Regions from separate parts of the Homo sapiens genome. Here region 1 is linked to region 2. The links come from fine-mapping of genetic effects on gene expression. A gene starts in region 2. The other region holds a variant in brackets. All regions are shown on one strand. Distances are from middle to middle.

Region 1 (5,383 bases), 74 kb before region 2:
TGGAAAAGTATTGTGCAAATATTTTGTTCCCTAACCCATCAGTAACTAAGAAAACATTTTCACAGTCGTATTTTAGAAAAAACATAGTACATAGTATATTTCTTTGTTTAATGCAATAGTGAATTAAGTTTTACCTTTGCTATAGTTGGTCAGTCTTTTTAAATATTATGGAATAACACCCACCTACATTCCCACATTAATAATAAGTATAAACTACACAGTAGCATAGTTACTTTCCATCTAATTTTCCACCTCTTACATAATCAGAGTACATGAATGAGGAGTGATTATGTGTGTATACATATTTTGTTGTATTTTTCAAAAAGTGACCAATAGGACTTTTTAAAACTTAAAAATAATATTAAGTCAATACTTACTCATTGTAAAAAAAAAAAAAACAGAATTAAGCAAAAATAAATAAAATCACAGAGATAACCAATATACTTTGGTATATTTCCCAGACATTTTTCTATAAATACTTACAACAAATAAGGTATAATAATGTAATACTGCACTCTACTTATTACCTAACAATACATCATATTTCTATAGCATTAGATATTCTTTTACAACATTTAAAAGGCTGCATAGTAAAGCATTATATGGTTGTACAAACATTTTTTAAAGCTATACCTTACCCTACATCTAATTTGATCCCAATTTTTCTTTATTATGAACCATGCTGTGCAAGGAATCTTTCTGGGGTAATGGAAATGTTCTGCATCTTGATAGAGTCAAAAGTAAATAGCTTTCAAAACTAGTCAAACTCTACACTTAAGATCTGTGCATTTCAGATATATTAATCATACCTCATTTTTTAAAATAGGAAAAAAAACATGCTGTGAGGAACATCTCATAATTAAATCTTTTGCAAATTAAGACCACTTCCTAAGGATAAATTTTTAAAACTGAGATTGCTGGATCAAAGGAGATATATATGCGTGTGTGTGTGTGTGTGTTGATTTGATATTGATTTGTTCACTCAAAATTATTGGCTAAGTTAACACTTCAGCCAAGATATTGCCAAACTGCCTTTTAGAGTAATGCTCTCACTAGCAGATTTCTTTTTTTTTCTACTGCCTATGTAATTGCAGAAACTAGCAGATTTTTTAATCTGTGTCAATACTAGGTTTCAAAATTTGTAAAAACGTCTTACTTTTCACCAGATTTTAAAAAGTGCCACCTCTTATTTCAATCTGTGCTTTTAAAAAAATTGAGTGACAGTAAAATGTTTTTCCATATGCTTATTGATCATTTGTATTCCTTCTAACCTCGATGATCTCTCTTTCCTGCCCATTGAGTCTTTTGTTCCTTTTCCCCCAATTGGTGTTCATTGTTTGCTTACTGATTAGAAAAAAACGTGTTAAATATTAATGATATTAACCAGTTTTCACATGTTTCAAATACCTCTTCAAAGTTTTTCAATCCTTCTTTTAAAAATTCTGCTCGTAGAATTTTTAATAGAGCCTTTACATTTTTACATATTATAGTCAAATTTGTCTTCTTTTCATCTTTATAGTTTTTGCCTTGGGCATCATACTTAAAAACACCCTTTCCTATCCCCAAGATCATATCAATATTCAATATATGTATATGCTCTGACATCCCATTTTCAGCGATCATGGGCTCATGCCCATAGCTGCCTGGGACATTGCTATGCACAGGAGGTTCCTACCTTAGTGAGCAATCCCTTCATGGTGGGTTTGCCCTCAGGCTGCAGGGAAAGTGGGTTGGCAGCTTGTACTCGAAGAACATTCTGTAACACTTTAATCCACTCTTCCAATATATTGGGAGAATCTGCAGTCAGATAGTATGTGTGTTTTTCAGTGGTCAACTAGAATGCAACGAGAAAGGTATAGGAAAGAAAACTGTGAAGATTTAGGATTGTTAGCATTTCCTTGTTCATTATTCAAACGTCATTACTTAACACAGAAGCAAACATGCTAAATCTCAAGTCCCAGTTTCTAAATAAATGACTCCATATCAGTTAGAATATTTTAACCACTTTGTGAGAATTACAGCAATTAAATTTTTGTGGAAATAACTTTGTTACTCCAGTTTACCTAATTTTGGGGTTATGATTTTATATCTTGTTTATTTGTCACATTTTCCCTTTCTTGCTTAAATGTGTTACAGGTTCCTACTTTTCTTTTTTTTTTTTTTTTGAGACAGAGTCTCTTTCTGTCGCCCAGGCTGGAGTGCAGTGGCGCCATCTTGGCTCACTGCAAGCTCCGCCTCCTGGGTTCACACCATTCTCCTGCCTCGGCCTCCCGAGCAGCTGGGACTTACAGGCACCTGCCACCATGCCCGGATAATTTTTTTTGAATTTTTAGTAGAGACGGGGTTTCACCGTGTTAGCCAGGATGGTCTCGATCTCCTGACCTCATGATCCGCCTGCCTCAGCCTCCTGAAGTGCTGAGATTACAGGCGTGAGCCACC[G/A]CGCCCGGCCAGGTTCCTACTTATTGAAATGAGGAGCAGAATGATTAAAGACTATAATAAAATAGCATAGTTTTAGCAACTAAAGAAGAGGTTTCTTAATACAAATGACAAAATCAACTATAAATAAAATAAGAAGATCTTGCATATAAGAAGATAAATTATTGGAACGAACATGTGATTAGATATTATGAACTCAGAATGTTCCAGTCTCAAATTAGCCACACTGCAAATTTTCCAAATTTCAGAAACTTACAAATGATTCTTAACTGCCATGCCCAAAGACAAAGCTTTCCTTGATTCTCCTTTCTAAATTTTTGAGAGGTTTTCAGGTACAAATCACTGGAAACATTGATAATGTACCTTTCTGGCAAAGTTGTCCTCCACCCTCCAAAGGAGCAATATAAGAAAATAATGGTTATTGAAGACATTTCAGAAATAAAGTGTCTGACTTTAAATTACATATACTAGAATATCTCAACAGCCTGTGTTTTAAATTTAACAGATTTCTGGCAAGACTGGCCTTATGTGTGAGTAAAATGGGCAGCAGCTGCCCCTACAGTGTGACTTGCTTGGCAGCACACTCCCTCTGCTCACCAATATATTTCCCACTTTGGTGTTATGGCATCTGAAGTTCATATAAGAACTGTCATTTTCAGATTCTATATTAAAATACAAACATTCCTGAATTTCACAGTACATTATATAACTAACATCTTATTGAGAATTCATTTACCAGATAACCCTTCCTTAAAATAGCTTCACAGTTGGACAGCTGAAAATACCTAGGAGATTAAATATGAGGAAAGAAGAGTATAAAGGAAGAAAGGTAAAGTGTGGTGGGAGTTACTCAACACACACCTAACTTACATTATAGTTTTAACCAAAAATTCGTGGAGTTTCACATACTTCCAAGGCATCAAACTAACCCCCCAAAGTGAATAAAGAAACACTGAATTATCCTATCTCCTTTCCATTAGGTTGGATAATTGAGAATTGAGTCTGGCATGATACAAAAAAAAAAAAAAAAAAAAAAAAGTTAAGTACCTGAACTGTTTGTTTGTTATCTCCTCTTAAAATACTACAGGATGCACTAAGTTCAATATGGCCCTGGGGTTTTCTAATTACATCACTCTGTATGAAACAGAAAAACAAATGGAAAGTGATTAACTTTAACAGTAATAATAAGGAATGCTTTGTATCATTACTTGCATTATGGGAAGGAAATCAATCAGGCGTCTGATTTATAGTTTGAGGAATTACGTTCTAAACAGAAAACACTTTCCACTCACCGGAGATTTGTAGTAAAGTAATTCACCACCTTTAAGAACAAACCACCGCCGCTTCCAAGACTTGACTTTACCACTCATTTTTAATAAATAACCAGATTTTTCCAGTGGTTCCTAATTTTTAAAAGATAGACAAAAGCATTTTCAGTTTCCTTTTGGAGGCTCAATCTGACTGACTGCTTTTTAAAAATCATATTCAATATTTACATTTTTCCCATTATCACTGGAAGATGAGCAAGTTTTTGGGAGCTTCTGCTCTGGCTGTGAGTACTCCGTGTCTGTGGAGTAAGCATCAGGAGGAATAGCATAATCACTTTCAGAAGCCACAGAGGAGAGAGACACACCTAAGAGAACAAAGAAAGAAATCAAGTCAGTATTTAATACTGGGGAGGGCCAAACACCAGCTCTGAGTGCTCCTACAGAATGCAATTATTCCTAAATCATAAGCCTCCCTAGACTAGATTTATTCTCATTCCTTTGGCCATAAATAACTTTTTTTGAGACAGAGTCTCGCTCTGTCACCAGGCTGGAGTGCACTGGCACAATCTCGGCTCACTGCAACCTCTGCCTCCTGGGTTCAAGCGATTCTCCCGCCTCAGCCTCCCGAGTAGCTGGGGCTACAGGTGTGCGCCACCACGCCCAGCTAATTTTTGTATCTTTAGTAGAGATGGGGTTTCATCATGTTGGCCAGGATGGTCTCGATCTCTTGACCTCGTGATCCGCCTGCCTTGGCCTCCCAACATGAAGAACTTTTAAAGCAGAAAACAGAACTAAGAGGTAGGGACTGTCATGTAAATCTCTAAGGAAGTGAAAGGAACAGGAATAATATTTTGGTATGATTACAATCACACAGCTATTTTACATATATAAAATATATGCAAGAGTCTACTCATGTATATTTTATTAAGAATTAAAAATATGTGTATTTACACATTGACATATAGGCAAACAAATGTTGAACCTTAATTTATCAAGATTTTCACAATCACATTTTAAATTTCTTAACTTCTGTAATCACTTTTAAAGTAACCTCACATTTTAAAAAAACACAATTCAGTAGTATTTTTTCATTCAAGTTCCATAAGCTACTAAGCAGTTTACAGATTTTAAAAATATTTCATAAAAGAGAAACAATAAGATTGAAAGATATAAACAAACTATTTCTTTCACTTGCCAGCAGCTATAACATAAAATTCAATGGAACATTTATACAATGATTCATTTGCCTTTACAGAAAACTACCTGGGAGTTGCAAGCCACATTTCATGAGTCACTACAATTGGAGATTTAGAATATATTAAATAAAATCAAGGACTTAGGTAATTATTTATAAAAGTATCCAGCAATTTTTAAAAATATGTATTAACATTTAAGGGACATATTAGAACAATGCCACTCTTGTGACACTGCTTTTTATTTGACTCAGACAAGTAACAGTTGCTATAATATCTTCATTTTTCATAGAATAAACAAAAATGTAGACCTATAGGGACCTCAGTGATTGTCATGGCTAAGGCCCAAGGAGACTAAGGCCCAGAGATTAAAGGATTTGTCCAAAGTCAAAGAGTTAGGCAGGGGCAATGTTGGAACACAAGTCTCAGGCTCCCAGGACCAGGGCCAGTGTGCCAGGCACTGTCCTAGATGCTAGGGATAGAGCA
Region 2 (5,383 bases):
AATTGCTTTAACCCAGGAGGCAGAAGTTGCAGTGAGCTGAGATCCTGCCATTGCACTCCAGCCTGGGTGACAGAGTGAGACTCTGTCTCAAAAAAAAAAAAAAAAAAAAAAAAGTGGTACATCCATACAATGGAATATTATTCGGCCATAAAAAAGGAATACAGTACTAATACACGCTATAGTCATGGAAGAGCCTTGAAAACATTATGCTAAGTGAAAGATGCCAGACACAAAAGGCCACATATTGTATGAGTCCATTTACATGAAATGTCCATAAGAGGCAAATCCAAAGGACAGAAAGTAGGTTAGTGGTTGCCAAGGGCTGTGAGGAGAAGGTAGCAGATACTGACTACAATGGATAGGGGGTTTCTTTTTGGGGTGATGAAAATATTCTAGAATTAGATATTGGTGATGGCTATACAACCTTGTGAATATACCAAAACCCAGTGAACTGTATACTTTAAAAGGAAAAATCTTATAGTTTGTGACTTATATTAAGATCTCAATAAAAAAGATCACATATTTACAAATGACTAAAGAAAAAGTCGCAGTTTAAATGGATGTATACTAGGACTGCATTTACAAATTTAATCAACCATTATTTGTGGTTATCCCTGCCAAGAATTTCACAATTAGCTCAAAAAATTGAGAGGTAACTGTTAACCCCAAATATGAAAAGTATCATACATATATCTTACCTAGCGCACTTTGCTATGATGACATAATAAATTAATTCAAAGTCAAACATACCTATTTCTTTAGTTATGCTAATTATATATTTTATAGTGAAGTAGCAAAGCCTTAAGAATATTATTAAATTGGCATTTAACATCTACATTCCCTATTAATGGGTCATAATAAATCAGAACTGCAAATTGGTTGGATAATGGTCTGCACTGAGATCCAGACACCTGATTCCCTCATTTCATTCTGTAATTTCAGTTAGTTAACAAGTACAAAGCAACTGTTGTATTAGTGCACCATCTTGGGTAGTTAAAAATTCTAATTTTAAACAATATCCGCCATCCTTTTCATTACCACTAATGTTATAGAACTATATAACATTGGGAATATATATATAACTATATAACATAGCCGACTGCTAAATAAAGAAAATACCACATATAGATTCTGAATTTGAAAGGAATCTATCATGTCTAGATTCTGCATTTGAAAATAATCTATCTTCACTTCAGGGGACAGGAAAAAGTCTTGGAGTTCCAAATACCCCCAGTGATTTTTGGAAGTATTTACTGACATAAGATAAACTGTTTACAATTGTGGAGTGAATGCTCTTTTCTCTGAATCTCTGACTTCCTGTTTCTCTTCCAAATCCCAAAAAGGAAAGAAAAAGAAATGAAAGAATTATTCTACTTAGGCTTACCCTGATGAAGCGCAGCGTTAGTCTCTATGATATTCTTTAGTTTTTGCCTCTTAAGGGACAGCTTAACTGGGCTGGGTAATCGTGTGTGTGAGTGTGTGTGTGTGTGTGTGTGTGTGTGTGTGTGTGTGTGTTAAAAGATCTTTCTCGACGAGACTGAGGCATGCCTTGTTTAAGGAACCTTCTGACCACCACCTAGCCACCTAGCCCCACTTGGGCAACGCCTGCCCTTCGGTGACCCTGCCCAGAACAGCCGAGCTCCTCACTACATACTCCTCTGGGACACACCGCTGTGCGGGCCAGGCTTCCAAGACTGGCATTTTCACAAAGAAAGCAGTGACCCTCAGGTAGCCCACCACCAGAGCTTTTCCAATGTAAGTGGTTCGACTTCTATTTCCACAGCGTTACGCACAACAATATCGACGGGTAAAAAGTGTTGTCCTTTAAAAAGTGCCCCACTAACTTCGGGGACAGTGGTTTCCGGGTAGGTCACCTTAGGGTGCTTTGACGTGCCAGCAACTCGAGGTGTACAAAATGCTTCTTTAAAGTTTTGAGTTTAAAGTTTCGCCCCGGAGATCCTGGTGGATCTCCCGAAGCCTAAGGCGAGCGCGGCATCCCTGACCGCGCGGGTCCCTCGGCTCGGGGACCCTGGGCTGCCCCGCTGCGCCCCCGGGACCGCTCGCGCCGCGCCAGAAGCCCGGGCCCAGTGTTTCCAAACAGAACGTCACGGGAGCCCACGGGCGCGAGGGACCGCCGGCCACCGCCCCCTGCCCACCTCTCCCGGCGACATCCAGACTTGGGGGCCGACTCTGGGCTGTGGCGGGAGGTGCAGCGGCGGATCCCGAGTCAGCCCGCTCCGTCCCTCTCGTCCCCGCCTTCCCGCTCCTCCCGGCGCCCCAAACCTCGGCCCCGCGAGCCCCCCTGGACGGGGCGCCCTCAAGGGGGCGGGGATCCCAGGGTGGCAGGAACTCTGGAGTGGCCCCTCGTCCCCGGGCTTTCTCACCTGTCTATCTCAGCAGCGGGTCCCCGGCCGCAGCGCCCGATGTCCCGGCCGCGACTGGCCCCCGGGATCCCCGGACTCTCAGCCCGCGCCCGCCTCAAGCCGAGCTCGGAGAGGGCGGGGAAGGGCACCGCCTCCTCCAGGGACTGGCAGCCGGTGTAGCCAATGGGAGACCACAGCCGACCACCGGGCGTCACCGGGGGTGTGGCTATAACTTTGGCTCCTCCCAGTCCCTGCCCCAGGAGGGAGCTCTGTCCTGGAGTGGTACCCCTAACGTCCCAACTGCGAGACTCCAGAGCTTGCTGCAGCGGCCGGTCACCTTCATTCCACTCCGTCTGCCTGGACTGTTGCAGCACCCTCCCTTGGTCTCCCAGTCTGAAGTCTCTCCTCTTGCCAATCCACCCTTCATCTTCCTGCCAGGTTAATTTCCTTAAGAGCAGTTTTGATGAACAGTGTGCCAAAGACTTTCATTGGCTTCCGTTTGCTTAAATTATCAAGAACAGATTCCCTAGTCTAGTGTTCAAGGTCTCCATCCCGTCTTTTCAGGTTTATTTCTCACAGCTGCCCTTCACACACCTGAGACTACTGCTGTGCACCTCGCCACCCGAAGGAAGTGGCACTAGGAGCGTTTACATGCTATTTCCTGTCTCCACTTCAAAAAGCTCAGAATAATCTTCTCACCGGGCGCAGTGGCTCACGCCTGTAATCCCAGTACTTTGGGGGACCGAGGCAGGTGGATCACTTGAGGCCAGGAGTTCGAGACGAGCCTGGGCAACATGGTGAAACCCTGTCTCTACCAAAAAAAAAAAAAAAATATATATATATATATATATATATACACACAAAAAAAAAAAATTAGCTGGGCTTGGTGGCGCTCACTTGTAGTCCCAGCTACTCAGGAGGCTAAGGCTGGAGGATTGCTTAAACACAGGAGATGGAGGCTGCAGTGAGCCGCGATCATGCCACTGCACTGGATCCTGGGCGACTGGGCGAGATCCTGTCTCAAATCATCATCATTATCATCATCATCATCATCATCATCTTCTCCATGTAACTATGTCTGTCGCTCCACCTGGCAGAAATGTCGTCTCTGGGCCGGGCGCAGTGGCTCATGCCTGTAATTCCAGCACTTTGGGAGGCCGAGGAGGGCAGATCACGAGGTCAAGAGATCGAGACCATCCTGGCCAACATGGTGAAACCTGGTCTGTACTAAAAATACAAAAATTAGCTGGGCGTGGTGGTGCACGACTGTAGTCCCAGCTACTCGGGAGGCTGAGGCAGGAGAATCGCTTGAACCTGGGAAGCGGAGGTTGCAGTGAGCCAAGATAGCACCACTGCACTCTAGCCTGCCTACAGAGCAAGACTCCATCTGAGACAAAAAAAAAAAAAAAGGTCTTCTCTGGTTTCTGCTCCCTGAACATCTAGATTTTTGCCTCTCTTGGGGCTTAGCTCCCTCTGCCTTATGCACAGCTCCTCACATCTCTTTTAGACTGTGAGCACTTTGAAAACAAGGATTTGTGGTTTTTTTTTTTTTTTTGCATTCTCCTCAGCACAGAGCATATTGCATAAGTAAATTAGTGATAATTTAAATCCAGGTGAATTTTACATCCCAACTTAGGGTCTGGAGAGGTCAATCTCAGGGTAAAATAAAGAGAATTCTGAATGTTATGGATAATCGTTCCCCAGGTCACAAAGCTAGGTCAGACAGATTATTCTCTTTGGTTCACAGTTGGCCAATAGAGAGTATCAGAAAAACTTTTTCTACTACAATCTTTTTTTTTTTAACTTTATCTCATCTTATATAAAACACACACACACACACACACACACACACACACACACACACACACACACAGAGGATGGGCACAGTGGCTCATGCCTGTAATCCCAGCATTTTGGGAGACCAAGGCGGGCAGATGACTTGAGGTCAGGAGTTTGAGACCATCCTGGCCAACATATCGAAACCCCATCTCTACTAAAAATACAAAAATTAGCTGAACATGGTGGCATACGCCTGTAATCCCAGCTATTCAGGAGGCTGAGACAGGAGAATCGCTTGAGCCAGGAAGGCAGCAGTTGCAGTGAGCTGAGATCGCACCACTGCACTCCAGATTGGGTGACAGAGCAAGACTCTGTCTCAAAAAAAAGGAAAGAAAAAACCACAAAAGAGATAAAGATTTTCAAAGTTTCTCAGAGGAAAAGCAATAAGTGAATACAACTAAAAGTCCAGTAAGCAAGTATCAGGCTTTCATATTTCTTCCAGATGAGCATTAATTTTGAACAGGATCCCAGACTACCCCCACACATCAAATTCCTTTTGCCTTCTGTGGGAGCTGATGATGCATATCATATGAAAAATTGTCTTCAAACAGCTTTGGCAAACAAGCAGACTGGACTGGGCTTATTTTATAGAGCACGCAGGAGTTAAACAAACAGAGTTTCAGTAACTTGCATAATTTAACACAGCAAGTCAGTAGAGACCAAGCAGGAGAAAGAGAGAAAGAATGCCAAAATAGAATCACTTCCGTTTGTGAGTCAGAAATACTAATTAGACTAAAAGAACTGAGTGAATAAAGTCACTCATGAAAAGCCGCTTTGTAAACACGGCTGCCACCCTTGTAAGGCTTAGCCAATATTTACTTACTGTCACCTTTTTCTAGAAACATGACAAACTGAATTTGTCTGGGTATGGAGAATACAGCGGAACAGCATCCTATCTTTGTCTATGCTGAGAAAAACACATGGTACAATGGAATATTATTCAGTGGTAAAAAGAAATAAAGTACTGATACATGCTACAACATTGATAAACCTTGAAAACATTATACTTAATGAAAGAAGCCAGTCATTTAAAAGGCACATACTGTAGGATCCCATTTACATGAAATGTTCAGAACAGGCAAATCCATAGAGACATAAGTGGATTGGTGGTTGCTTAGGGCTGGGAAGGATCGGGGTGATGGCTAAGACAAGTGAGGTTTATTTTTGCGATAATAAAAACA

Which allele goes with the higher level. Alleles are on the strand shown, and positions count from the first base shown. SD is a standard deviation of normalised expression in the study named.
In carriers of allele A in region 1, the expression in tibial nerve of the gene that starts at base 2,504 in region 2 tends to be lower than with G alone (moderate effect, 0.60 SD a copy in GTEx).

The links. PIP is the estimated chance that this variant, and not a neighbour inherited with it, causes the effect.
Region 1: its variant is fine-mapped to the expression of PLEKHH2 in tibial nerve (GTEx, PIP above 0.99). The same link has a PIP of 0.9 or more in esophagus muscle, lung, sun-exposed skin, thyroid, transverse colon and unexposed skin.

What each region holds. Positions count from the first base shown.
Region 1 is chr2:43,708,676-43,714,058 of GRCh38, reverse strand. It overlaps PLEKHH2 (pleckstrin homology, MyTH4 and FERM domain containing H2), which reads right to left. Exons shown (of 30, transcript NM_172069.4): 12 at 3,933-4,069; 13 at 3,729-3,839; 14 at 3,484-3,570; 15 at 1,676-1,834. Among named protein-coding and RNA genes, the nearest start is that of C1GALT1C1L, 35 kb to the right of the region's middle. The variant G/A (reference allele first, on the strand shown) is at 2,440.
Region 2 is chr2:43,634,381-43,639,763 of GRCh38, reverse strand. It overlaps PLEKHH2 (pleckstrin homology, MyTH4 and FERM domain containing H2), which reads right to left and starts at 2,504. Exons shown (of 30, transcript NM_172069.4): 1 at 2,385-2,504. RefSeq lists a silencer at 2,271-2,600.